Linked DNA regions of Homo sapiens: regions 1, 2, 3 and 4 are each linked to region 5. The links come from fine-mapping of genetic effects on gene expression. A gene starts in region 5. Each other region holds a variant in brackets. All regions are shown on one strand. Distances are between the middles of the regions.

What was found.
Region 1: its variant is fine-mapped to the expression of SCAMP2 in whole blood (INTERVAL, PIP above 0.99). The same link has a PIP of 0.9 or more in testis.
Region 2: its variant is fine-mapped to the expression of SCAMP2 in whole blood (INTERVAL, PIP above 0.99).
Region 3: its variant is fine-mapped to the expression of SCAMP2 in unexposed skin (GTEx, PIP 0.94).
Region 4: its variant is fine-mapped to the expression of SCAMP2 in whole blood (TOPMed, PIP above 0.99). The same link has a PIP of 0.9 or more in blood mononuclear cells and lung.

Annotation. Positions count from the first base shown.
Region 1 is chr15:74,902,112-74,907,211 of GRCh38, reverse strand. It overlaps MPI (mannose phosphate isomerase), which reads right to left. Exons shown (of 8, transcript NM_002435.3): 8 at 4,993-5,100. It overlaps FAM219B (family with sequence similarity 219 member B), which reads left to right and starts at 361. Exons shown (of 5, transcript NM_020447.5): 1 at 361-625; 2 at 847-934; 3 at 1,981-2,058; 4 at 2,500-2,548; 5 at 4,426-5,100. The coding sequence starts at 412. The coding sequence ends at 4,593. RefSeq lists enhancers at 19-298, 140-944, 945-1,751 and a silencer at 359-658. The variant A/G (reference allele first, on the strand shown) is at 2,961.
Region 2 is chr15:75,065,625-75,070,724 of GRCh38, reverse strand. No RefSeq gene overlaps it. Among named protein-coding and RNA genes, the nearest start is that of PPCDC, 45 kb to the right of the region's middle. RefSeq lists enhancers at 627-726, 807-896, 907-1,166, 1,227-1,336. The variant T/C (reference allele first, on the strand shown) is at 3,117.
Region 3 is chr15:74,930,269-74,935,368 of GRCh38, reverse strand. All of the region lies in intron 1 of COX5A (cytochrome c oxidase subunit 5A), which reads left to right. Among named protein-coding and RNA genes, the nearest start is that of COX5A, 5.3 kb to the left of the region's middle. The variant G/A (reference allele first, on the strand shown) is at 2,524.
Region 4 is chr15:74,841,338-74,846,437 of GRCh38, reverse strand. It overlaps ULK3 (unc-51 like kinase 3), which reads left to right and starts at 3,282. Exons shown (of 16, transcript NM_001099436.4): 1 at 3,282-3,434; 2 at 4,018-4,158; 3 at 4,243-4,363; 4 at 4,929-5,033. The coding sequence starts at 3,333. It overlaps SCAMP2 (secretory carrier membrane protein 2), which reads left to right. Exons shown (of 9, transcript NM_005697.5): 8 at 845-965; 9 at 1,221-2,708. The coding sequence ends at 1,355. RefSeq lists a silencer at 2,801-3,520 and enhancers at 2,783-3,694, 3,763-4,288. The variant G/A (reference allele first, on the strand shown) is at 2,335.
Region 5 is chr15:74,870,732-74,875,831 of GRCh38, reverse strand. It overlaps SCAMP2 (secretory carrier membrane protein 2), which reads left to right and starts at 2,467. Exons shown (of 9, transcript NM_005697.5): 1 at 2,467-2,633. The coding sequence starts at 2,577. RefSeq lists an enhancer at 4,284-5,100.

The sequences.
Region 1 (5,100 bases), 31 kb before region 5:
CAACCCAAGTCTGCTCTCTGGCAGCCCCACATGTGGGGAGACCCCCAAGGAGACACTGCGAGAAGCACAGAGTGCGGCGCGCCAGGACTCAAACCGTGGGCACCCGACCGACGCACACGCGCAGCCCCACGACAGTATCAGTATTTAATTTCCACTAGAGACAGAACTAAGCCTAACCATCACCAGGCTCAAGCCGCCTACCCCAAAACCGAGAACGGAACTGCCCGGTCCCCCCGAAAAGAAGGGCGGAACATTTCGGCCAAGTCCTCAGACTACCGAACCGGAGAGCTCCGAAAGGGGACTACCTGCGCCTGCGCACCGCCATCTTGTTAAAAGAGCCCGCCTCTCCCTCGGCCGGTCACTCTTTCGCCACGGGCGGGGTTGCACCATCCGGCAGGGCGGGGCCCGGCCATGGCGACCGCGGAGCCCAGCGGGCGCGCGTTGCGGTTGTCTACCCCGGGACCCCGGCCCAGCGGGGCTCGGGACCGCGCGCCGGGAGCTGCGGGGCCACCCTCCGGGCAGATCGGTAATAGAGCCCTCCGTCTGGGGGAGCGCACCCCCGCGGCCGTGGAAAAGCGGGGGCCATACATGGTGACGCGCGCACCCTCCATTCAAGCCAAGCTGCGTGAGTGTGGCCCGATGGTCGGGGGAGGTTTCTCCCTGGGCGGGCGGCCGCGTCCCCAGGGCGGGTTCCGGAGCTCCGCTGGGCCTCGGCCCCGGAGGGAAGGGGTTAGCTGCAGCCTGCTCTCGCCCCTCAAAATCCGTTCGGAAAGAGCGGCCTCCCAGCCTTCGGGAGACGCGGCGGAGTGGGGAAGACCCGGCTGACCCGGGTCCTTTAACTTCCAGAGAAGCACCGGGACCTGGCCAAGGCCGTTCTGCGGAGAAAAGGCATGCTGGGGGCCTCGCCGAACCGCCCAGACTCTTCAGGGAAAAGGTCTCAGCAGGCGCCACCTCCTCTGTGCCAGCAGCTTTAGAGAAGGCTTTAATCCCCAGGACGGAGGCAGGGTGCTCTGGTTTAAGGCCGAGCTAGCGATTCCCCTGATGCAACCTGTCAGGTTCACTATCTTTAAAATGGGAAGAGGAACAATCTCTCTTTTCCTTTAAGGATGTGATAGGATCAGATAAAGGGCTTCGGAATAAGGGAGTTCTGTGAGTGCACAGGCTCATTCACTATCATTCTCCTCCTCTGTTAGGGAGGAGAATGGTGGCTGGAGTCCCCAGCAATGAGGACGAAGAGCAGTGTGGGAATGGCTAGACCTGTTTTTGTTTGTTTGTTTTTAACAGAATAGTAAACTCGGAGCTGCATAGAACCTTATTCAGTGCCTCCTTTTACAGATGAGGGTTGAAACTCGGAGAAGTGAAGGTTAACCCTAACCTTTTACCCAAAGACTTGCAGTTTTTGTGTCCTCTGATTAAATAAGTGGGGAGAGGGTGCTTTTCCTAGATCAGGCAAGGGGAGGTGTGCTTTTTTCCAAGACCTATGGGAGGAGTAGAATACAGGCCGGGCGTGGTGGCTCACGACTGTAATTCCAGCACTTTGGGAAGCCGAGGCGGGTGGATCACTTGAAGTCAGGAGTTCGAGACCAGCCTGGCCAACATGGTGAAAGCCCGTCTCTATTAAAAATACAAAATTAGCTGGGCACGCCTGTAGTCCCAGCTACTCAAGAGGCTGAGGCAGGAAAATCACTTGAGCATGGTAGGCGGAGATTGCAGTGAGCCGAGATCGCGCCACTGCACTGCAGCCTGGGTGACAGGGCCAGACTCTGTCTCCAAAAAAAGAAAAAAAGAATGAGAACATACACATTCTGAGGCACTGTAGCCAGGTACATGGAGCTGCAGGCAGTGGTGGCTGTGACCAGGGAGAAGGCAAGTCAGTAGTGCAGTCAATTCTTTCTCCTTCAGGGCGAGGACTCTGCCTATCCCTGTGAAATGCCTATGCTTTCATCTATGTTTGGTCTCTTCTCCCCCGTCTCCCCTCAGGTCAGTGAAGTTTAACAAGGGCTATACTGCTCTTAGCCAGAGTCCAGATGAAAACCTGGTGTCCCTCGACTCTGACAGGTGAGTGCTCCCCTTGGAAATACCCCCTTGGGAAGCAACTTGGCTGGGACTGAAGATCGCCTGATGCCTTTGCTTGTTCCCTGTCTCCTCCAAGGCCCTTCATGTACATTCCAGGGCCGTTCTCTTCTGAACAATATCCCTTCCCAGGATGGCTTGGTTAGAAGACTCATAGGTAATCGTGCTGCTCTAGAATTCGGAGCACCAATGTCCGGGGGATCATCCTGCCCTGTTATGTTTGCATTGTTAGTGAGAGTGACCCTGTCCCTGCCAGAACCAATTGAGGGAACCAGTATTATTCAAGGCCTGTTCGGACTTGAGTTCTGTTGTGTGTGGCCTTTGCTTCAAAAGTCTTCCAGATGCCCTTGCATGCTCTCCGCCTGATGATTTACAGCTGTGCACCACAGGTACCTCCCGGAACTGACTGTTTTCCTCTTCTCCTAGTGATGGGGAGCTGGGATCCAGATACTCCTCCGGGTATTCATCTGCAGAGGCAAGTCCAGAACACCTTTCTGTGCAGGGCCAGGCTGCAGGCAGCATTACCACCACTGCCAAATGCTTGTTTGGTGCCCGCTGTGAGCACAGCACTGTGCCAGACTTCTGGTCTGTTCTACGATCTTCCACTCTGCCCTCTTCCCCCGGTGGAGGTATAGGTGACCAAGGAGGGCTGTTGAGAATCGAGGAGACCATTTAGACTCAGGGCTAGAAATGATCTCAGAAGTCATGTAAGCTGGGCATGGTGGTACATGCCTGTAGTCCCAGCTACTAGGGAGGCTGAGGCAGGAGGATTGCTTGAGCCCAGGAGTTCCAAGACCAGCCTGGACAATATAGCAAGACCCTGTCTCTAAAATAAGACTCTAAAATAAAAGTCTTCTAGGCCACAGCTTACAAAAGGAACCCTTTTG[A/G]TAGATCCCAGCTAAGTGTTTGCTAGTCTGTGCTTACTTGAATGCTTTTTGTAATTGGGTACTGACCACCTCCAAGGAGCCTTGCTACCCACCCTTCCCTCAACACACACAGAATTTTTTCTTTGAGTAGCTGTTAGAGAAATCTTCCTTATTAATCTGAATGGGTCCATTGGTCCTTGACCTGCTTTCCAGTGTCACACAGCAACTCTAGTTTCTCTGAGATCAGCATTTCCGTCTCTCCCCTGCCCATCTTTCACCAAGCTTGCTTTCTTCCAGACCAAACAACTTCTGTTTCTTCAGTTGTTCCATCTATGAAAACTCAGGCTAAAACACTCCTGGGATAGCCATGTAGACATTTTTCTAGAGTGACTGTCCCAGATAGAAAAACAGGGATGTAAAATCCTGGCAAGTGAAGCCCATTCCCTTTGACAGAGGTGAAGTGCTGGGGACCTGACTCTACACCACTTGCTTTTCTTACTCTCCTGGAAATCTTGGCTAATCTCTGAGTTTCTGTCACAGAGAATAGAGCAGTTTGCAAATTTTGTCCTCCTTAAATGTCTGAGTGTCAAAGATTGTGTGTAAGAGGAAGTCTTACACTTTCCCCAGCCTCATTTATTTTTCTTTTTCTTTTTTTTTTTTTTTTTTTTTTTTGAGACAGAGTCTCACTCTGTGGCCCAGGCTGGAGTGCAGTGGCATGATCTCAGCTCACTGGAAGCTCCGCCTCCCAGGTTCACGCCATTCTCCTGCCTCAGCCTCCCGAGTAGCTGGGACTACAGGCGCCCGCCGTCACGCCTGGCTAATTTTTTCTATTTTTTAGTAGAGATGGGGTTTCACCATGTTAGCCAGGATGGTCTCGATCTCCTGACCTCGTGATCCACCTGCCTCGGCCTCCCAAAATGCTGAGATTACAGGCGTGAGCCACCACGCCCAGCCTTATTTTTCTTATGTTCAGTGAACTGATGAAACCAACCAACAAATTCCACTTTGCAGGAACCCACCTCTGTTGGCATCAAAGGATAAGTCTAACCAGCAGTGTGTAGACAAAGCTGCTCACCACCCCCTTCCACTGTAACCCATGCTCTACTACGCTAGCCCATTGTTCTGTTATTATCCCATATTCTTCAGCTTTGATAGGGACTAGTCTGGGCTCCCAGTGGGAACTGTCAGAGCACTGATTTTCAAACATATTGGGAACTCGATATTTACATGAATGCCTCAGGATTTAGTGAGAACAGATCCCTGGGGGTCAGTGACAGTGAAGTCTGGACAGTACTAAGGCTTACTGCTGGCTGAGGCACAAGTAGGAGAAGGTGGTACTTCCTCCTGTAGTCCAGGGATGTGTGGGGTTGGCCTGGGGTGGGACATGGACAGGAAGCCCTGGTAACGGAATGTGGTTCTGTCTTTTGGGTAGCAGTTACTTCTGCTTTGCATCTTGGCCTATAGTTCCCTCCTCTCCTTCTCTTAGCAGGTGAACCAGGATGTGAGCCGGCAGCTGCTTCAGGATGGGTATCACCTGGATGAGATTCCAGATGACGAGGACTTGGACCTCATCCCCCCTAAGCCCATGGCCTCTTCAACATGCTCCTGCTGCTGGTGCTGTCTTGGGGACTCTTCTTCCTGTACCCTCCAGTAGACATTACCCTCCAAGGTGGGCCCTGCTCACCATGAGGCCTACAGAGCCCTGTTGGCCACTCATAGCTCACACAGTGCAGTGAGCACTGAAGTCACTGACCCCTAGAAAGTGACCTGCAGGTAGCCCTTACCTGTTGCTTCTCAGGCCAGAGGCCCCCATCTGGGCTGTGGGCTGATAGGTAGAATTCTGTAGTTTTCCTCTGCTGTTGGAGCAGAGTTTGGAGAAGTCACTTTAATAAGGGCAAGACAGAAAATTCTGGTTCTTATGGTGGGTGACAAAGGTGGCTAAGGAAAACACTTGCAGACAGCTTGATTGGTATTTGTCATAGTGCTTCAGGGAGGCAAAAAGGGAGCTCTTGTGCCCAGGCTGTGCTAGATAGTGTTGAATGGAGGCAGAAAATAGCACTTTATGGTTTATTATAGCTGGCAATCCAAAAAAGAAACTGTTTGAGACCAGTTCGAGAAATTCCGTTTGCTCTATTCTTCCTAGCTCTAAGATGGTTTGCAG
Region 2 (5,100 bases), 190 kb before region 5:
GTGCGCTCTGGTGACCTCATCCTCCATCTCTGTCACCTCTCCCACATTTCTGAGGGACAACTGGGCACAGATTCTGGAACACTGTGAATGAACTCTAAACCCCTCCATCTAATGGGCCTCAGGGGCACTTCCTACGAGCACTGCACCATGCTAGGTTGGCAGGGTGAAACAAAAACAGCAAACAGGAGGGGTCCCGGCCCTCTAGCTAGTTGGAATGTAAGGCAATTATCTGCCAAGTATCCCACAGTAAAGCTGTGGGAGCCTAGAGGACAGAGCTTTTTGGGAGAATGGGCCTGAAAAAGTTCTCGAGCTTGATCTGGGTGGTGGTTCACAGGTGTGTGCACCTCTAAAAATCCATCATGCAGGCCAGCCAGGTGTGGTGGCTCTCACCTGTAACTCCAGCACTTTGGGAGGCTGAGGTGGGCAGATCTCTTGAGCCCAGAAGTTCGAGACCAGCCCAGGTAACATGACAAAACCCCATCTCTACAAAAATTAACTGGGCATGGCGGCACAATCTTGTATCCTAGCTACTCAGGAGGCTGAGATGGGACGATCACCTGAGCCCAGGAGGTCAAGGCTGGGTTGCAGCGAGCAGTGATTGCACCACTACACTCCAGCCTGGGTGACAGAGACAGACCCTGTCTCAAAAAGAAAAAAAAATCCATCACGCTGTACACTTAAGATGTGTGCACTTTACCATATGTGTTATACTTCAATTTTTTTAAAAAACTGTAACTGGCCCTGGTCTCAGAACTCAGCAGAGAGTAGACAGGCCAAGCGGGGAGTGGAAGGTAGGTGGCAGGACCTCCAGGGAAGCCAGCTCTGGAGGCCCGGTGATGGCAGTGGGAAAGAGCCATGGGAATGAGTTGGAGCCATTACCAAGAAAGAAGGTGAGGGCCTGGGGACTAACATAACATCAGAGACAGAGGCAGCCAAGAGTGAGAGGTCTGGGGTATGAGAGCCAGGGCAGCCTTCTGTTTGGGGAACACCCAGAGACGACTGGGAAGTCCCAGTCTGCACACAGTTGAAGGGGAAGTGGAAGAGGGATGTGTTGACTTCTCAAGTTTCGAATAGGTGAGGACGGTATGGCTGACAGTTGGAGGGTTCAGAGCACCAGAACACACTCAGGACTCTGAAAGGCAGGCCCCGGGAGATAACTTCAGAGGGTGACTAGCAGCAGCCAGCCCATGGGCCTGAGACCACCACTATTCCCAATCCCTGGTTTCCCCCAAAGCAGTCTGAGCAGAAAAAAGACCTGAGTCCGCCCCAGACTAGCCTGGGTCAGCCCCACCATTTGTGAGGTCCAAAATCCTGTGTTTGGGGGACATGTGTGGTGAGTCTCCAGCACGAAGGTGGAAGGGAGGGAGCACACAGTAGATGCTCGAGCAATGGCAAGGACTGATTCTAGGCCACCCATGAAGCTAAGCAGGGGCCCTCTTCACACCTCTAGTCCTCCAGTGTCTCCTCAAACTTCCCCAGAGCAGGAGGCTCACTCCCTCAGTCACTCCCTCCATTTCCATAAGCTCTAGGTGCCAGGACATTTTCCTTCTCTGGGGCTGAACTTTGCCTCCAGGTCATTTCTCAGAGTTCTAGGATAGACTCTTGTCCCCTGAGGCTGCTCTTCCCTGCTCATCCAGCCTGGCTTTTGCAAAGCCTTCAGCATGCTGGCTCTTCTCCTGCAGATGTTGGGCAGCAGGGGCCCCAAAAGGACCACAATCCTTCAGATGCAGTCTGAGCCAGAAGGAGGAAAAATCACCTCCTTTGACCTGCATGCTATACCACTATTAATGCAGCCCAAGCTATTAGCTAAGGAGGCTACATGCAGTGTGTGGTTATCATTTACCTGATGGGAAAAAGAGGGAGTTCTTGTTTCCCAAGTACCACCTTGGCTTCCCAGAGCCTCTCCATGATCCCCACCCAGTCCCTGCCTCACTGGGCCCCTACTCAATCTGCCCTCCTTCACCCACTGCACTCTGCCCCACTCACAAAACTTTTATGTGCCCCAGCCAGCTCTTCCCCTTCCCACATTTGCACATGTAATAGCCTGGGTCTGAAATGCCCTGGTTCATCTTCCCCTGGCGAACTCCTGGTCACTCATCTTGCTTCCACTTACCTCCTCCAGGAAGTCTTTCCTGAAAACCCCTGCCCTTGCCTAAATTAGGCTCCAAGGTTATCCCCTCTCAGTACCCCGTACTTTTCCTCCATGGTGCTTATCAGGGTGTCTACTCTTCCTTACCTGTGGGCAGCTATCTCAGAAAGGACCCTGAGGGCAGGGAGCATGTGGATTCTTTTCCCCACTGTGTCCGCAGCACTGGGCACAGTGCCTAGCACAGAGCACATATACATACAGTAAAGATGGACTGAGTGGACCTGTAAATGAGGCATCCTTGTTGATCTGGTTATGCAAAGCCCTCGACTGCTACACCACTCCATCCTCCCCAGGCTGAGCGAGAGGATGCAGTGTCAAGAGAGTGTGCTTTGGGGCCGGGCACAGCAGCTCACACCTGTAATCCCAGCACTTTGGGAGGCTGAGGCGGGCGGATCATGAGTTCAGGAGATCTAGCCCATCCTGGCTAACACGGTGAAACCCCATCTCTACTAAAAAATACAAAAAATTAGCCGGGCATGGTGGCAGACGCCTGTAGTCCCAGCTACTCAGGAGGCTGAGGCAGGAGAATGGCATGAACCTGAGGGGCAGAGCTTGCAGTGAGCCGAGATCAGCCACTGCACTCCAGCCTGGGCGACAAAGGGAGACTCTGTCTCAAAAAAAAAGAAAAAAATTCTGGCAGTTATTTGGCAGGGAGCTCTTGGACAGATGTAGTTTATTCTTTAGGGGTCTCCAGCTTGGAGTTACCCACCCCATGTTTACTGTCCAGCCCTGAAATTGGGTAGTCCACCATATATTATCCCAGCTGGGGTAGGGTGATGCCCTACTGTAACCTGTATTTGGTTTAGGGCAAAGATATTTATCTGCCTGTGAGATCTGTCTCTGATTTTTTAAATTTCCACAAGGTAAAACCTGGCAGGCATTAAATCTTATAGTCTGGGGTGCTACTGTCTTGGTCACATTAATCACCAACCTGACTGGGTAGAGAAGAGTCTGCTGCCAGTTTCCA[T/C]TTTGACCTTCTGCTCTTTGTATATTAGCCCATCCCAGCCATGTTAATTTCCAGAAATGGGGCCAGCTCATGTTTTCTTTTTAGATTTTTCTTAGAGTTCACTTTAAGGGTTCCTTAAAGTTAAGAGTTAAAGTTAGACTCGGGCACTTTCCACTGATCTTTTTCCCTCCCTTCCGGGATCTCTTTTACCAGTCCCTTGACTCGAATATAGTGAGTCCACCTCCATTCAGCTGTTTGCAGGGCCATCTCAGTGGTCAGGAGCACTTGATAGGGACCTTCCCAGCTTGGGTGGAGCTTGTCTTATTTCCAAGTCTTAATCAGCATGAAGTCACCAGGCTGGAAGTGGTGAACCACAAACTTAAGAGGTGGAGTTTGAGTTAGAAGTCTTTTTAACCTAAGGGATGACAGGGTGGAGGATATGGCCAGTATATAATTTCTTAAGAATTGATCCTTGGTTTCCATAGTAGGGAGATCTGTAGCTCTGCCTAAATACAGGAGCCCATATAATAACTTGTAAGGGAACAATCCCAAGTCTTTTATTGGAGCTGTCCTAATCCTGCAGAGTGCTATTGGGAGACATTTGGTCCAAGCATTTTAGTTTCTAAGATTAGTTTGGTGAAATGCTTTTTGAGAGTTTGATTCATTCTTTCTACCTTTCTAGAGGAAGGGGGATGCCAAGGGGTGTGATAATCCCATCTAATTTGTAAACCTTCCATAATTCCCCTTAACACCTTTGAGGTAAAGTGGCTCTCATTGTCTGAATCAATATTTTTCACCAGGCCAAAGCTAGGTGCAATCTGTTCTAATATAATTTTGACCATATACCTGGTGGTGGCTGTTGGGAGGCAAAAGGCTTCCACCCAGCTGGAAAGGTGATCTACGATCACCAGTAAATACTTTCGTCTTTCTACTTTGAGCATTTTTGTAAAATATACTTGAATGCTTTGAAATGGTCTTAGTCCAGGAGGTCTTCCTCCTGTGGCCTGTTTTCTAATTACCTTTTGGTTTATCCTTTGACAAGTTACACAATTTCCACATACTTGTTTAGTGAGGGTATAAGTCCCTATACACCCATAATTCCTAATGTTATAGGAGGCAGAAAGAAATTTAGGTAGACAAGGTAAAGTGAGTCCCTGGCAGAAAACTTTCCTTCTATTAAAAAGCAGCTCAGAAATAGCTCCCTTTCTAACCTCATGCAGTTCAAAGAAATTACTTCTCTTCTAACAAATGGCGCCTGAAAGCTCAGCCTGTAAATCACAGATAAAGAGCTCAAGCACAGAAGGAGGGGGGTTGGGGGGGATCGAGATTCGGGGGAAGTCTCCTGGGTAATCACCAAACTTCACTCTCATACAATGGGCCCCAGTAAAAACAGTGGGCCTTAATAAGCACATTCCTTTCCCTTTAGGCACACTAAGATAGGGAAGCTAAAAGTGGACTGGGGTGTGGGGGTGGGTGCCTGAAGCTGCAAGATACCTGGAACAGACACAGATACTCTCCCTCCCAGATAAGTGACACAATTAGGTAAAGGCTGATAGAAACTCTGCTCTAAACAGATAGCACATCTGGTCACAACCAAATCATTGGGCCCTAGGAGGATAAGACATCCCCTCCTCACTAGCCCCCTCCTCACTAGCCCATTTATGAAAACTCTGACATTTTTATTGCAACTTGGCAACCGGCTCAGGACCCCCCCTTCAATGCAGAGCTGGTCCCTCCCACGGCCACGAAATTCCTACTCCAAACCCACTCCACCTGTGCAACCCCAATCTCCCCAGCTGCAAGACCAAGAATCCTGGCATCCACCCCAGCCAACAAGGCTGCCTCACTAAGTATTGCATTACACAGAGCCTGGGGTCCCCAGTGACTCCCTTTGTGTACTATAGACATTAGTTCTTTTATCAGGGGTTTACTCACACTAGCTCTCTCACACTGTCTACCTTTATTTCAGCTGTCTGCTCCTGCTCTGCGACACCTGCCACCCCCC
Region 3 (5,100 bases), 60 kb before region 5:
GTGAGCCACCATGCCCAGCCAAATTTTTCTTTTTCTTCTTCTGTTGTTGTGGTTTTGTTTTGTTTTTGTTTTTGTTTTTGAGACAGGGTCTCGCTCTGTCATGCAGGCTGCAGTGCAGTTGGCACAGCTCACTGCAGCCTTAACCTCCTGGGCTCAAGCCATCCTTCCACCTCAGCCTCCCAAAGTGCTGGGATTACAAGCGAGAGCCACTGCACCCAGCCTCAGTAACTCGTTAATGTGCCCTCATTCCTACAGTTACCACCACCAAAGTGTTCATTCTTTGGGCCTGTCAGGGTTGATTATTTATTAAATGGAAAACTATCCGATTTAACTAAATTTAAACCCAAAGGATCAATGAGCCCTTTTATTTTTCTATATATGTTAGCCTTTTTTGTTTTTAAATGGAGTGCTTAACTGAATGCCAAAAAGCAGTGTTAGAAATAGCTTTTTAGGATGAAGCCCTAAAAATGTCCTCATTTTTCACAGCTGCTTCTTTTTTCTTACTTTGGGACTTTCAGGTTACGTAAAAGCTCTGAGTAATTGTTTTCCAAAATAATTTGCCTTTCAAGCTTCAATACTAGGTGGAGATCCTGTTCTTAAGTGGGGTGGGGTGTGTGGGGCAGAGAATGCTAGTAGAGTTTACCTAAAAAAAGTTAAGCATGTGGGGGATGTGTCCATAGCTAATAGAATAGATCCTGCTTTACCCATTATTGGATTTAACAATATAATTTAAATCATGGCCGGGCATGGTGGCTCACGCCTGTAATCCCAGCACTTTGGTAGGCTGAGGCGGGCGGATCACAATGTCAGGAGATCGAGACCATCCTGGCTAACGCGGTGAAACCCCGTCTCTACTAAAAATACAAAAAAATTAGCCGGGCGTGGTGGCGAGTGCCTGTAGTCCCAGCTGCTGGGAAGGCTGAGATAGGAGAATGGCGTGAACCTGGGAGGCGGAGCTTGCAGTGAGCTGAGATTGCGCCACTGCACTCCCGCCTGGGCGACAGAGTGAGACTCCATCTCAAAAAAAAAAAAAAAATTTAAATCACGTGGGGAGAGTCTGTTTTAGCCCTTCAGAAAGGGATGTATGGGTTTTTAAATTTTTATTTATTTTAATTTGTTTGATATAGAGTGTTGCTCTATCACCTAGGCTAGAGTGCAGTGGCGCAGTCATAGCTCACTGCAGCCTTGTTGCCCTGGGCTCAAGGGATCCTCCCGCCTCAGCCTCCTGAGTAGCTGGGACCACCAAACCCCGCTAATTTTTTAAGTTTTTTGTGGAGAATGGAGGTCTGTCTTTGTTGCCCAAGCTGGTCTCTCAGTCCTGGCATCAAGCGATCCTGCCTTGGCCTCTCAAAGTTCTAGTTCTGTTTTATAAAAGACTTTTTGGAATACAACCAGTTTGTAATTTGGCTTCCAGAAGACATATGATCAAATCCTTGAAGGTGGTGATCTCCTTGACTTGGATTTGCTGTTGGTGGTCATCTTATTCACAGTTAGGAAACAAAGCCTAGCACTCATGTAGTCAAATCCATGCCCAGCAGTGAACAAAACGAATTGCTTATCATGAAGCACTGTTGTGGATGGGACAGGTAATTACCTCTGGGGAAGGAGTACATAGACCTTTCATTGGGTAAATACTTAGGAGTGGAATTACTGTGTTATATGGTAGGTTTGTGTTTAACTTGATAAGAAACTGCTTAAACCGTCTTCCAAAGTGATTGTATCATTTTATACTTGCACTTTCAGTATTCAGTTAAGGCTAGCTTTAGTTTTTGAAGAGGTGGCTTATAATTTTTTCTTTTTTGAGACAGGGTCTCACTCTGTCTCCGAGGCTAGTGCCACTGCATCTGGCCCTAAGTTCTTGATAATAGTGCATTAGATGGTTGTTCTAATCTATGTTTTTACATAGATAGATAGATAGATAGATAGATAGATAGATAGATAGATAGATATTTTTTTTTTTGAGACGGAGTCTTGCTCTGTCGCCCAGGCTGGAATGCAGTGGCACGATCTTGGCTCACTGCAACCTCCCTGGGTTCAAGCTATTCTCCTCCTTCAGCATTCCAAGTAGCTGGGACTACAGGGGTGTGCCACCACGCCTGGCTAATTTTTTGTATTTTAGTAGAGACAGGGTTTCACCATGTTGGCCAGGCTGGTCTTGAACTCCTGGCCTCAAGTGATCTGCCTGCCTCAGCCTCCCAAAGTGCTGGGATTACAGGTGTGAGCCACCGCACCTGGCCTTGTTTTCTGATATATTAAATTTGAATATTAGTCTTGTAAGACTTATTAAATATCCACGTAGTTTTGATTAAATGTTCATACTTACCAGACATATTTAGGTGTAGAGATCCATTTTTTTCTTGTTGTAGAAATTAAGGCTGGGCACCGTGGCTCATGCCTGTTATCCCAGCACTTTGGGAGGCCGAGGCAGGCAGATCATGAGGTCAAGAGTTCGAGACCAGCCTGACTAACATGGTGAAACTTTGTGTCTACTAAAGATACAAAAAATTAGCCTGACATGGTGGC[G/A]CATGCCTGTAATCCCAGCTACTTGGGAGGCTAAGGCAGGAGAATCACTTGAACCCGGGAGGTGGAGGTTGCAGTGAGCCGAAATCGTGCCATTGCACTCCAGCCTGGGCGACAGGGTGAGACTCTGTCTCAAAAAAAAAAAAAAAGAAATTAAAACGTGTTCACTTCTAGTCCATTTATGTACATGTTCCACTTCATTCTGGGCTTGGATTATGTAGGTAATTTAGGTCTCTGGGAAGATCTTTTCTGCTTCGTTTTTTTGCTACTCTTCCTCCTGCCAGTTACTGCATTAAAGATATATAGGATATTACTAATGTTTAAATTTCAGTGTTCTTAGAACAACAATGTTGAGAGGTTTCTGGGTGAAGTTTTTAAAAATATATATATATGTATGTTAAGGCTGGGCATGGTGGCTCACACCTGTAATTCTAGTATTTTGGGAGTGGTAGGATTGCTTGAGGCTAGGAGTTTAAGACCACCCTGGGCAACATATCAAGACCCCCATCTCTAAAAGTAAATAAATAAAAATATGTTAAGCCTTAAACAACTGGAAGTTACACCACACTTATCTAATACAGGTAGTAGGAAATGTGATTTGAGATAGGTTTCATTTCTTTAAGTTATGATTTCTATAAATAGACAACTAAGACGTTTTTAGATAAGGGTTAGTTTATAGCTACCATTTGTTTAATACTTACCAGTGCATAGTGTTAACCTACCTGTTTTCACATTTAATCTTCATAATCTGCTAAGGGGGGTAGCGTCCCCATTTTACAGATAAGGAAAATAAACTTAAGTTAATTTTCCAGGGTCAAACAGAGAGAGCGAAGAGCCTAGAGGTATCTGAGTGCTAGGTTGTGCTGCATTCAATACCCAAAGATAAAATTTTCTGCCTCCGCCTATCCCCCTACCTGTTCCAGAGGCTGTTCAGAAGGAATTCAGATTTCCAAACTCAATTCAGTGTCCATTTGACAAGAAGAAAGAAAAAATGGGGCTGGGTGCAGTGGCTCGCGTCTGTAATCCCAGCACTTTGGGAGGCTGAGGTGGGCAGATCACTGGAGGTCAGGAGTTCGAGACCAGCCTGGGCAATGTGGTGAAATCCCGTCTCTACTCAAAATACAAAACTTAGCCAAGCTTAGTGGCGCTCGCCTGTAGTCTCAGCTACTCAGAAGGCTGAGGCAGGAGAATCACTTGAATCCAGGAGGCAGAGGTTGCAGTGAGCTGAGATTGTTCCACTGCATTTCAGCCTGGGTGACAGAGTGAGACTCGATCTCAAAAAAAAAAAAAAAAAATGGAAATGCTTTTCATACAGTACTCTATGTAAACATCATTTCTTTTTTTCTTTGAGACAGAGTCTTGCTGTGTCGCCCAGGCTGGAGTACAATGGCATCATCTCACCTCACCTCAACCTCCGCCTCCTGGGTTCGAGTGATTCTCCTGCCTCAGTCTCTCGCGTAGCTGAGATTACAGGCGCCCGTCATCACGCCCAGCTAATTTTTGTATTTTTAGTAGAGACGGAGTTTCACAATGTTGATCAGGCTGGTCACAAACTCCTGAACTCAGGTGATCCACCAGTCTCAGCCTCCCAAAGTGCTGGCATTACAGGTGTGAGCCACTGCGCCCAGCCCAAAATATTCCTAGTAAAACAGTATTATTTTGCATTAGGTGTAGATTAGAGTGTACGTTCCCTTAGGGGATTTATCAGAATATTTTGGGAAGGGGCTGTAGTTTGATAAAGCAATTTGTATGTGTAATTTGTCAGGATGTGTAATTTATTTTGGAATATAATAACATGAGAATTTTTTTTTTTTTTTTTTTTTTTTTTTTTTGAGACAGAGTCTCGCTCTGTTGCCCAGGCTGGAGTGCAGTGGCGTGATCTCTGCTCACTGCAAGCTCCGCCTCCTGGGTTCACGCCATTCTCCTGCCTCAGCCTCCCAACTAGGTGGGACCACAGGCGCCCGCCACCACACCTGGCTAATTTTTTGTATTTTTAGTAGAGACGGGGTTTCACCGTGTTAGCCAGGATGGTTTCGATATCCTGACCTGGTGATCTGCCCATCTCGGCCTCCCAAAGTGCTGGGATTACAGGCGTGAGCCACCAAGCCCGGCCCGAGATTTTTTTTTTTTTAATGTGTGAATGAAGTATATAAGTTTATTTAAGAACTTGAATGGTGCCAGGGCTGGTGGCTCACACCTGTAATCCCAGCACTTTGGGAGCCAAGGGAGGAAGGAATGCTTGAGCCCAAAGAATTTGAGGCTGCAGTGAGCTGTGATTGCGCCACTACACTCCAGCCTAGGCAACAACAGAGCGAGAGCCTGTCTCAAAAAAAAGAACTTGAATGGACATTAGTATTGCTCTTAGTTTTTTTTTTTTGTTGCTTTTTTGGTTTTTTTTGTTGTTGTTGTTTATTGTCTTTTTTTTTTTTTTTGAGGCGGAGTCTCGCTCTGTCGCCAGGCTGGAGTGCAGTGGCACAATCTTGGCTCACTGCAACCTCCGCCTCCTGGGTTCAAGCAATTCCCCTGCTTCATCCTCCCGAGTTGCTGGGACTACAGGCACGCGCCACCACACCCAGCTAA
Region 4 (5,100 bases), 29 kb after region 5:
GTCTCACTCTGTTGCTCAGGCTGGAGTGCCGTGGCGTGATCACAGCTCACTGCAGCCTTGAACCTCACGGGCTCAAGTGATCCTCCTACCTCAGCATCCCAAGTAGCTGGGAGCATAGGCATGTATGACCACAGCCAGCTAATTTTTTTTTTTTTTGAGTTGGAGTCTCGCCCTGTCACCTAGGCTGGAGTACAATGGCATGATCTCGGCTCACTGCAGCCTGCACCTTCCAGGTTCAAGTGATTCTCCTGCCTCAGTCTCCCGAGTAGCTGGGATTGCAGGCGTGTGCAACCACGCGCAGCTAATTTTTGTATTTTTAGTAGAGCAAGGTTTCTCCATGTTGGCCAGGCTGGTCTCAAACTCCTGACCTCAAGTGATCTGCCTTCCTTGGCCTCCCAAAGTGCTGGGATTACAGGCACGAACCTGGCCTTTTTTTATTTTTTATGGAGACAGGGCCTCCCTCTGTTGCCCAGGTTGGTCTTGAACTCTTGGGCTCAAGCGATCCTCCTGCCTCAGCCTCCCAAAGTGCTGGGATTACAGGTGAGAGCCATAGCACCCAGCCCGGTGCTACTTCTGACTCTGTGAAGGCAGCAACCACATCCTCCCTTTCAGACCTCACATAACCAGAAGATTCCCCTTGTGAATGGGGTAGTGTGGGCCTGTCAGCCTTCACGGAGGTCTGGCCTCACAGGCCAAGGGCTTCTGGCTCACAGGGCTCCCTGTGCTGTGGGGAGATGCCAAGGTGATGGTCAGGACACAGCAGCCACTTGGAGAAGAGCCCCTTATGCTGACTTTTGGAGCCCACTCCCACTTTGCTCCCTCTGGCCTCTTCTTCCCTTTATAGCGGTTGGATTGCAGCCCTGTCTACACTGGATAATCATTCCCTGGCCATATCAGTCATCATGATGGTGGTGGCTGGCTTCTTCACCCTCTGTGCCGTGCTCTCAGTCTTCCTCCTGCAGCGGGTGAGTGGTGTGGGCAGGGCTGACAGCAAATGGGAGGAGGCAGGCAACCGTTTCCTGCCCTTGCCACGAGATGTTTTTCACCACTGCAGTTGGGCATCCTAGGCCCCCAAAGGTCCAGTACCTTTCTCCAGGGATCTGGGTGGGGGGTCAGGCAGTGCCAGGCTTCTGGTGACCCCTTTGGGAGTATAACCTGGATGGCTGGCTTCCTGGTGGGCCCAAAGGACAGGCTTCTCTCACCCCACCCCTCTTCGCCAGGTGCACTCCCTCTACCGACGGACAGGGGCCAGCTTCCAGCAGGCCCAGGAGGAGTTTTCCCAGGGCATCTTCAGCAGCAGAACCTTCCACAGAGCTGCTTCATCTGCTGCCCAAGGAGCCTTCCAGGGGAATTAGTCCTCCTCTCTTCTCTCCCCCTCAGCCTTTCTCTCGCCTGCCTTCTGAGCTGCACTTTCCGTGGGTGCCTTATGTGGTGGTGGTTGTGCCCAGCACAGACCTGGCAGGGTTCTTGCCGTGGCTCTTCCTCCTCCCTCAGCGACCAGCTCTCCCTGGAACGGGAGGGACAGGGAATTTTTTCCCCCTCTATGTACAAAAAAAAACAAAGCTCTCTTTCCTTCTCTGGTGATGGTTTGGTAGGATTCTTTTGTCTCTGGAAGCAGTGGGACTGAAGTTCTCTTCGTCCTGTGCACACACAGACACCCCCACACAGTTGGGATCACAGGCTGACCTGGGCCCATCCCAGCTGGAGCTTTCTGCCAGGGTCCTGGGCCTTGACTCCCCCACCCTGCAGGCCTGGCCTGAATCTGGCTTCTTAGACACAGCCCAGTCCTTCCTGCCTGGGCTGGGAATAAGCCTCTCACAGGTTCTGGTGGACAGATCTGTTCCCCAGGTCACTCCAGTGGTCTCCAGGCTTCCAGAGAAGGCTGGTTGCCTCAAGCTCTTCTCTGCCTCATAAACGGATCCAGAGAAGGCTGGTTGCCTTAAGCTCTTCCCTGCCTCGTGTTCCTGAGAAACGGATTAATAGCCCTTTATCCCCCTGCACCCTCCTGCAGGGGATGGCACTTTGAGCCCTCTGGAGCCCTCCCCTTGCTGAGCCTTACTCTCTTCAGACTTTCTGAATGTACAATGCCGTTGGTTGGGATTTGGGGACTGGAAGGGACCAAGGACACTGACCCCAAGCTGTCCTGCCTAGCGTCCAGCGTCTTCTAGGAGGGTGGGGTCTGCCTGTCCTGGTGTGGTTGGTTTGGCCCTGTTTGCTGTGACTACCCCCCCCCCTCCCCGAACCGAGGGACGGCTGCCTTTGTCTCTGCCTCAGATGCCACCTGCCCCGCCCATGCTCCCCATCAGCAGCATCCAGACTTTCAGGAAGGGCAGG[G/A]CCAGCCAGTCCAGAACCGCATCCCTCAGCAGGGACTGATAAGCCATCTCTCGGAGGGCCCCCTAATACCCAGTGGAGTCTGGTTCACACCCTGGGGGGTGTGTCACTGTGATGGGACACGTAGGAGTCCACCCTTAAAACCAGCACCCTGTCCCTCGAGGCTGCCGAGTGGGTGTGTGGACTGGGGTGCCTTCCCACAAAACTAGCCTCCGGCTCTGGGCCCGAGACAGCCGCAGGCCCCAGCCACTGAATGATACTGGCAGCGGCTGGGGTTTTATGAACTCCTTTCTGGTATTTTTTCCCCTCTATGTACAAATGTATATGTTACGTCTCAATTTTTGTGCTTAAGTAAAAATAAAAACATTTTCAGACAACACGGGTCCACATGTCTGGTGGACTTGGGAGGACGGGGCAGCCCACAGGATTAGGGGCTGGGCGCCGCTGCTAAGATTGGAGAGCGGGGACAGTTAAGATGCAATAAATAGGTCAAGGCCCTTCCTCAGAAAAGTGAAAAGCAGCTGGGAGGCCTGGGAAGCCAACGCGGCCTCTTCCAAAGGCGCCTTCTCGTGCCAGTAGCTCTCCTTTCAGAGCTGCGGGTCCTGGGGAGGGGCCCTGGGAGCCTCCCGGACGCCGTCGCCCCCACACACGCCCGCTCCGCCGCCCGCGCCCTCACGTGGGCGATCTCTAGACGCCTCTGCGCCCGCTAGGAGTCCCCGGAGACCACGCCGGCCGTCCTCCGTTGTTAACTTCTAGGCTCGCGGGGCCTCCGTATCCCCACGTGGGCCCTGCAGGAACTGGCGGGGCGCGTGACCCGGCGAGGCCCAGAGACAGGGGAGGGGCGCCGGGAGCCGGGCGGATCCGCGTCCCCGATGCGCGCTGCATTTCCGGCGGGCGGCGCTGGGGGCAGCGTGGAGCCACCCAGTGCTCGGCCCGCCCCGCAACCCGCCGGAACCGCCGCCCGCAGCGAGGAAGCGCCCGCGCGGGCGCAGGCGGCCGGAATGGCGGGGCCCGGCTGGGGTCCCCCGCGCCTGGACGGCTTCATCCTCACCGAGCGCCTGGGCAGCGGCACGTACGCCACGGTGTACAAGGCCTACGCCAAGGTGGGTGCCGGCCGATGGCCCCGTGCCCGCCCGAGCTAGCTCGGCTGGTGCCGGCCGGGGAGACTCTGAGAGGTTAGCGACAGTGTGGGAATAGTTAGGGGCGGGAGGCCGGCCTCGCCCCAGCTGACCCTCGGCGGAGGTTGGAGCCGACTGCCACGCTTAGGTCTTAAAGAGCGCACCTGCACCCACCTGCAGGGTCAGTGGCTGAAGAACAGGCTCAAAACAGGTTACCTGGTGGGCTGGGAGGAGTCTGGGACTGGAGCCAGTTGGGAGGCAGAGTGGGCGGTTCTAGAACCCTGAGTGACATGCCTCTGCCGGGAGCACTCCAGAATGCAAAGAAATGGATCAGCTAGCCGAGGGTTGGAGAAGACCAGGCTGAGGCTGTGTCGGGAAGCCAGGATTCCAGAATCAGCATTCCTCACTGGCCTCACAAGGGAAAGCTGGGAAGCCCGGTGCTGGTGTGCAGTAGGTAGACCCGGGGAGGGGCGGGGTGGGGGAACAGAGGGAACCAGATAGAGCCTTTCCAGTCAGACAAGGGTCCTGGCCCCCTCAAGGCAGAGTCCCCAAATCTCCTGTCTCGCAGAAGGACACTCGTGAAGTGGTAGCCATAAAGTGTGTAGCCAAGAAAAGTCTGAACAAGGCATCGGTGGAGAACCTCCTCACGGAGATTGAGATCCTCAAGGGCATTCGACATCCCCACATTGTGCAGCTGAAAGACTTTCAGGTGTGAGCCTGGGGCGGGGCCGCTGCCAAAGGGAGCTGGAGAAGGGACACTCTCTTCAGGCCGCCTCTCTGCCTCTAAACACAGTGGGACAGTGACAATATCTACCTCATCATGGAGTTTTGCGCAGGGGGCGACCTGTCTCGCTTCATCCATACCCGCAGGATTCTGCCTGAGAAGGTGGCGCGTGTCTTCATGCAGCAATTAGGTAAAGGCCTGTGACACCAGCCTGACACTCTGTCCCTTGTTCTCTGCCCCCCACCATCCCACCCCTCCCCCAGGCTTAGAGCCTTGGCACGCATTGCAGCTGCCTCCTGCACAGCCTGAAATTTTATGGTCCTGTTTATCTCATACACTCAACCCTTGCTCAAGGACGCTGTGGGAGAGATGAGGGGGTAACCCCTCTGTGGGGTGTTCAGGCTTCCATACATAGAACATAATATAAGGACCTTGTAGAACATTCCAGAGTCCTGTAGGTAGGACTCAAGTGCTGTGCCAAGGAAAAGAGCAGGATCTCAAGGGCTGGGGCATCCAGAGAAGCTTCTGAGAGGTGGGGAGACTTGTGAAGGGGCAGAGGGAAGGAGGGTGGGCACTCGGGTGGGGTGGCAAACTCCTAGAAGTGGTGTGATCTTGGTGCTTATATGGAAAACATTAGACCAGCCAGGCAGGAACTGGGGTTGTGCAGGCTTGAGGAGGCAGATGTGAGCCGGGGAGGCGAGAGGCAGGCGGGAATGGGCTCTGAACTGTCTCTCTTCGTGGGTCCTGCTCCTCAGCTAGCGCCCTGCAATTCCTGCATGAACGGAATATCTCTCACCTGGATCTGAAGCCACAGAACATTCTACTGAGCTCCTTGGAGAAGCCCCACCTAAAACTGGCAGGTCTGTGTCTGAAACAGCAGGGATGAGGTTTGGAGAGTGCAGAGGCCTCCCTCTGCCTGGGCTCACT
Region 5 (5,100 bases):
CCTGGAAGGCGGAGATTGCACTGAGCTGAGATCATGCCACTGTACTCCACCCTGGGTGACAGAGTGAGACTTTGTCTGGAAAAAAAAAAAACCCCAAACCCACAAAAAATAAATTAATAAATGTGTATCATGTGCTTTATACTATGTTAGTGACAGAAACACAACAGTGAGCAAAACAGACCTCAGCCCTACCCTCATGGAGCTTTCAGTCTAGCGGAGGATACAGGCATAAAGAACCACCTATACTAGTATTAATTACAATCTGCAATGGGTATTGTGAAGGAAAAGTACAGGGCAATAGGAGAGCTTATGTTGGGTATGAGGTGATGATGTAACCAAGAGAGTGAAGGGAAGCTACTCCTGAAGAAAGGCATCTGAACTTGCATTTAAAGGGTAAGGAGAGGTTAACCAGAGGATGATAGTGGGGCATGGGTTAAGTGCATACCAGGTAGAAGGAACACATGTGTAAAGGCCCTGAGACAGGAGGGCACAAGGAAGGTTTGAGCAACTGAAAAGAACTTGCATGGCTGGAACAGTGGGTGGGGGTTGGGGGCTAGAAGGGGTCAGAAGGGGAGAAACGTAGGGGCAGATCCTTTAGGACCTTGAAGACAAACTAAGAATTTGGGCCTTTATGATTTTTTTTTTTTTTTTTTGAGACAGAGTTTCACTCTTTTTGCCCAGGCTGGAGTGCAATGTTGCAATCTTAGCTCACTGCAACCTCCGCCTCCCAGGTTCAAACGATTCTCCTGCCTCAGCCTCCCAAGTAGCTGGGATTACAGGTGTGCACCACCACACCCAGCTAATTTTGTATTTTTAGTAGAGATGAGGTTTCACCATATTGGCCAGGCTGGTCTCGAACTCTTGACCTCAGGTGATCTGCCTGCCTTGGCTTCCCAAAGTGCTGCGACTACAGGCATGAGCCACCTTGCCTGGCCTGATTTTTTTTTTTTTTTTTTTAACTGAGACAGGGTCTCACTCTGTCACTCAGCTGGAGTGTAGTGGTGCAAAGATGGCTCACTGCAGCTTTGACCTCCTGAGCTCAAACAGTCCTCCTGCCTCAGCCTCCCAAGTAGCTGGGAGTACAGGCACAGGCCACCATGCCTAGCTAATTACGTGTGTGTGTGAGATATGTATATGTATATATATATATATATATATATATATATATATTTTTTTTTTTTTTTTTTTTTTTTTGTAGAGCCAGGGTCCTGGTATGTTGCCTAGGCTGGTCTCGAACTCCTGGCTTCAAGTGATCCTCCTACCTCTGCCTCCCAAAGTACTGGGATTACAGGCATAAGCCACGCACCCAGCCCTTTATGGAAATTAATTGAAAAATTTTAACAAAGTTCTGTGATAATTTTGCCCCCTTTAAACATATCTTTGATTACAACATGAAGAACAATAGACCAATTAACAGCACTGTATTAGTTCAGGGTAAAAATGACAGTGGCTGGGATTCGGTGACAGCAGAGATGAATAATACCAGACAGATCCAAATAAATAAGGTGGATTTGGCCAGACAGTGGTTCATGAGTATAATCCTAGCATTTTAGGAAGCCAAGGCGGGAGGATCACTTCAGCCCAGGTGTTTGAGACGAGCCTGGGCAATATAGTGAGATCCCCATCTCTACAAAAAATCCATAAATTAGCTGGGTATGGTGGTGACCAGCTGTAGTCCCAGCTACTCAGGAGGCTGAGGTGGGAGGATTGCTTGAGCCCAGGAGCTCGAGGCTGCAGTGAGCCATGATTGCACCACTGCACTCCAGCCTGGGCGACAGTGAGACCCTGTGGGGGGCGGGGGCGGGGGAAAGCGGAGCTGTGGAGAGTGAAGCAGCCACCTCCCCCATGATTGAGGCTGTGTTGCTGAATTCCGTGAGTCACTTCATAAATGTTTGATGTCCAGGTTCAAGTCCCAACTCAGGTCCCAAAGCTGATGGGCCCAGGAACCCTCGTCCCTAAAACGATGAAACGACATCAGAGGGCGAGCAGCCCTAGAAGAAGCAGGCTCAGCTCGGGTGGAGGACTGCTGGATGGTCCTGGCACTTCTCTTTCCCCGAGCACGTTCTGCAGAAGAAGCGCTTTCCTAGTTCTCCCAAGGCCTCTGGCCTCACCTGTCACCCCTGTCCTTTGCCCAGGGATCAGTTTGGACTTCTTCCCAAACTTGGTCTACAGAGAAGTGAAGGGGCTGTTTCCTGTCCCACTTTTGAGAGTTTGCTTTAGAAACATAAAATTGGAAGGTGTCAGATTGATAGGCAGTTGGGAAGGACTCCGGCCACGCCTCTGGCTCCGTAGACGCTCCGCGCAGCCAAGACCCCTGAATCCCCAGCAGAGCGAAGATGTGGACGGAAGCCGAATGCCCACCCACCGCACTATTGTGGGCTGGGCGGGGGGGGGGGGGGGGGGGGCGGAGCGACCCCGGTGCCGTCATAGGGCCACGCCCTCGGGGGAGGGCATCGCGCCTGCGCCAGAACCGCTGCCTCGCTCCCGGAAGTGGAGGGTCTACACGAAGCGCCGCTGGGTCTGGGTGCCCGGAGGCAGCAGCGTTCGCGGAGTTCGCCCGCTGGCCCCCGATCACCATGTCGGCTTTCGACACCAACCCCTTCGCGGACCCAGTGGATGTAAACCCCTTCCAGGTAGAGCCCCTCTCCCGCCATCCAGCTCTCAGATTTCCCTAGGGCCCACGGCCGCCGCCCGGGCCTCTCGCTAGAGCCGGGAGACGTGGCGTAGGAGGGACGGGTCATCTGCCCAATGGGAGAGCGGGCTTTGAGGTCTGGCCTATCGTAACGCGTGAGGGGCGCGACTAGCAGCAGGTGGAACTGCAGAGGAGGCGGGGCGCTGAAGTGTTGGAGACAGTGGGGTCTTCTAGCACCCGGAGGCTGGGCTGTGCTAGGGAAGGGGACTGGAGCAGGTACGGTCGGACCCTTCCGGAAGTCTCCTAGCGTCAGGGAGAAGCGAAATGTGGCTATCGCATTCCCTCATTCTTGGATAGACACCTGTCTTGAGTCACTTTAGAAGAGGGGGTGACAGCAACATATGAGGAGGTGGTGAAGCCTCTGGTGGAGGGGAAAAATGTGGGAAAAGCCCAGGACACCTGCCACCGCTCCACCACCAGCCAAACTAGTGTATAAAGTACAGGAGAGCCCCTGAGATTTGTCAGGGAAAGAAAGATGGGAGAGGGCGGGAAGGTAGCCCAAGTTGAAAAATGGCCTTGATAAGAATTCCACATTTTGGCCATGGGTCTAGTTTGGAGTGGGTTTTGACCAGATAGGAGAGCCCGGGTTAGGGAGAGAGGAGAGGTGCGGGGGACTGTGAAAAATTCTGGACCCACAGGGAACGTTTGTCTGATGGAACTGTGTGTGGTGGCAACATAGTTGAGATGCACTGACGTGTGAGCTGGCCTGACTTTTTTTTTTTTTTTTGAGACGGAGTCTCGCTTTGTCGCCCAGGCTGGAGTGCATTGGCACGATTTCCGCTCACTGCAACCTCTGCCTCCCGAGTTCAAGCAATTCTCCTGCTTCAGCCTCCTGAGTAGCTGGGACTACAGGCGTATGCCACCACACCCAGCTAATTTTCATACTTTTAGTAGAGACGGGGTTTCACCGTGTTGGCCAGGCTGGTCTCAAACTCCTGACCTCAGGTGATCCATCCGCCTCGGCCTTCCAAAGTGCTGGGATTACAGGTGTGAGCCACCACGCCTGGCCTGACCTTTTGAACAGCAATCAAGGAAGAAACAATCTTCCTGCTTTCTTTCTTTTCCTTTTTTTTTGTTTTGTTTTGTTTTGTTTTTTGAGACAATTCTTGCTCTGTCGCCCAGGCTGGAGTGCAGTAGCGCGATCTCGGCTCACTGCAGCCTCAGCCTCCTGGGTTCAAGTGATTCTCGTGCTTCAGCCTCCCGAGAAACTGGGATTACAGGTGTGCACCACCACACCCGGCTAATTTTTGTATTTTTAGTAGAGACGGGGTTTCACCTTATTGGCCAGACTGGTCTCAAACTCCTGGCCTGAAGTGATCCACCCACCTTAGCCTCCCAAAGTGCTGGGATTACAGGGGTGAGCCACCACACCTGGCCTCTTTTTTTTGAGACAGAGTTTTGCTCTTGTTGCCCAGGCTGGAGTGCAGTGGCGCGATCTCGGCTCACTGCAACCTCAGCCTCCTGGGTTCAAGCAATTCTCCTTCCTCAGCCTCCTGAGTAGCTAGGATTACAGGCATGCACCACCACGACCGGCTAATTTTGTATTTTTAGTAGAGACGGGGTTTCTCCACGTTGGTCAGGCTGGTCTCGAACTCCCGACCTCAGGTGATCCACCTGCCTCGGCCTCCCAAAGTGCTGGGATTACAGGCATGAACCACTGCGCCCAGCCCTCTTTCTTCCTTTTTTAAGGCAGGGTCTCACTCTGTCGCCCAGGCTGTAGCACAGTGGAGGTCATGGCAGCCTTGACCTCCAGGATTCAAATGATTATTTGAATCCCACCTCAGTCTCCTGAGTAGCTGGGACTACAAGAATGTGCCACTGGGCCTGACTCCTTTTAAAAAAAATTTTTGTAGAGAAGGGGTCTCGCTGTGATGCCCAAGCTGGTCTCGAAATCCTGGTCTCAAGCAATCCTCTGGCCCCAGCCTCTCAAAGTGCTATGATTACAGGCATGAGCCACAGGACAGTCTTCCTACTTAAAGCCCACACCTTTCTGCCTTTCAGCTGAGAGCACAGGGATGATCTTTTTCCACCATGAGGGGCTGAACTGTTACCTCCAGAGCTCCTATGCCTCTTGTTTCACGTCTGCTCAAAACCCGTTCTAGGGAAGCTTGTTTGTGCTGACTGGTGAATTATGAGCCCTGATATTCTGCTCTGTCAGGATGTCACCAGGCACATTAACTCACCCTGCTTGTCCTTTATTTTGGTCATTGGCAGCTTTTAAGTTTCCTGCAGGTGTCAGAGAAGTCCTTGAAGGAGTCCTTCCTGTCATTCACAGCATGAGTTTTCCCACTTTGAATCGCTTCAAGGGTCAGAGCAAAATCAAAGGAGACTTGAACTAAATAATTATACGCTGTCAGGAGAGTGAAAATGTTTTGCTTCTTTCTTGGTCTCAAGGTGTCTTAGCCAAC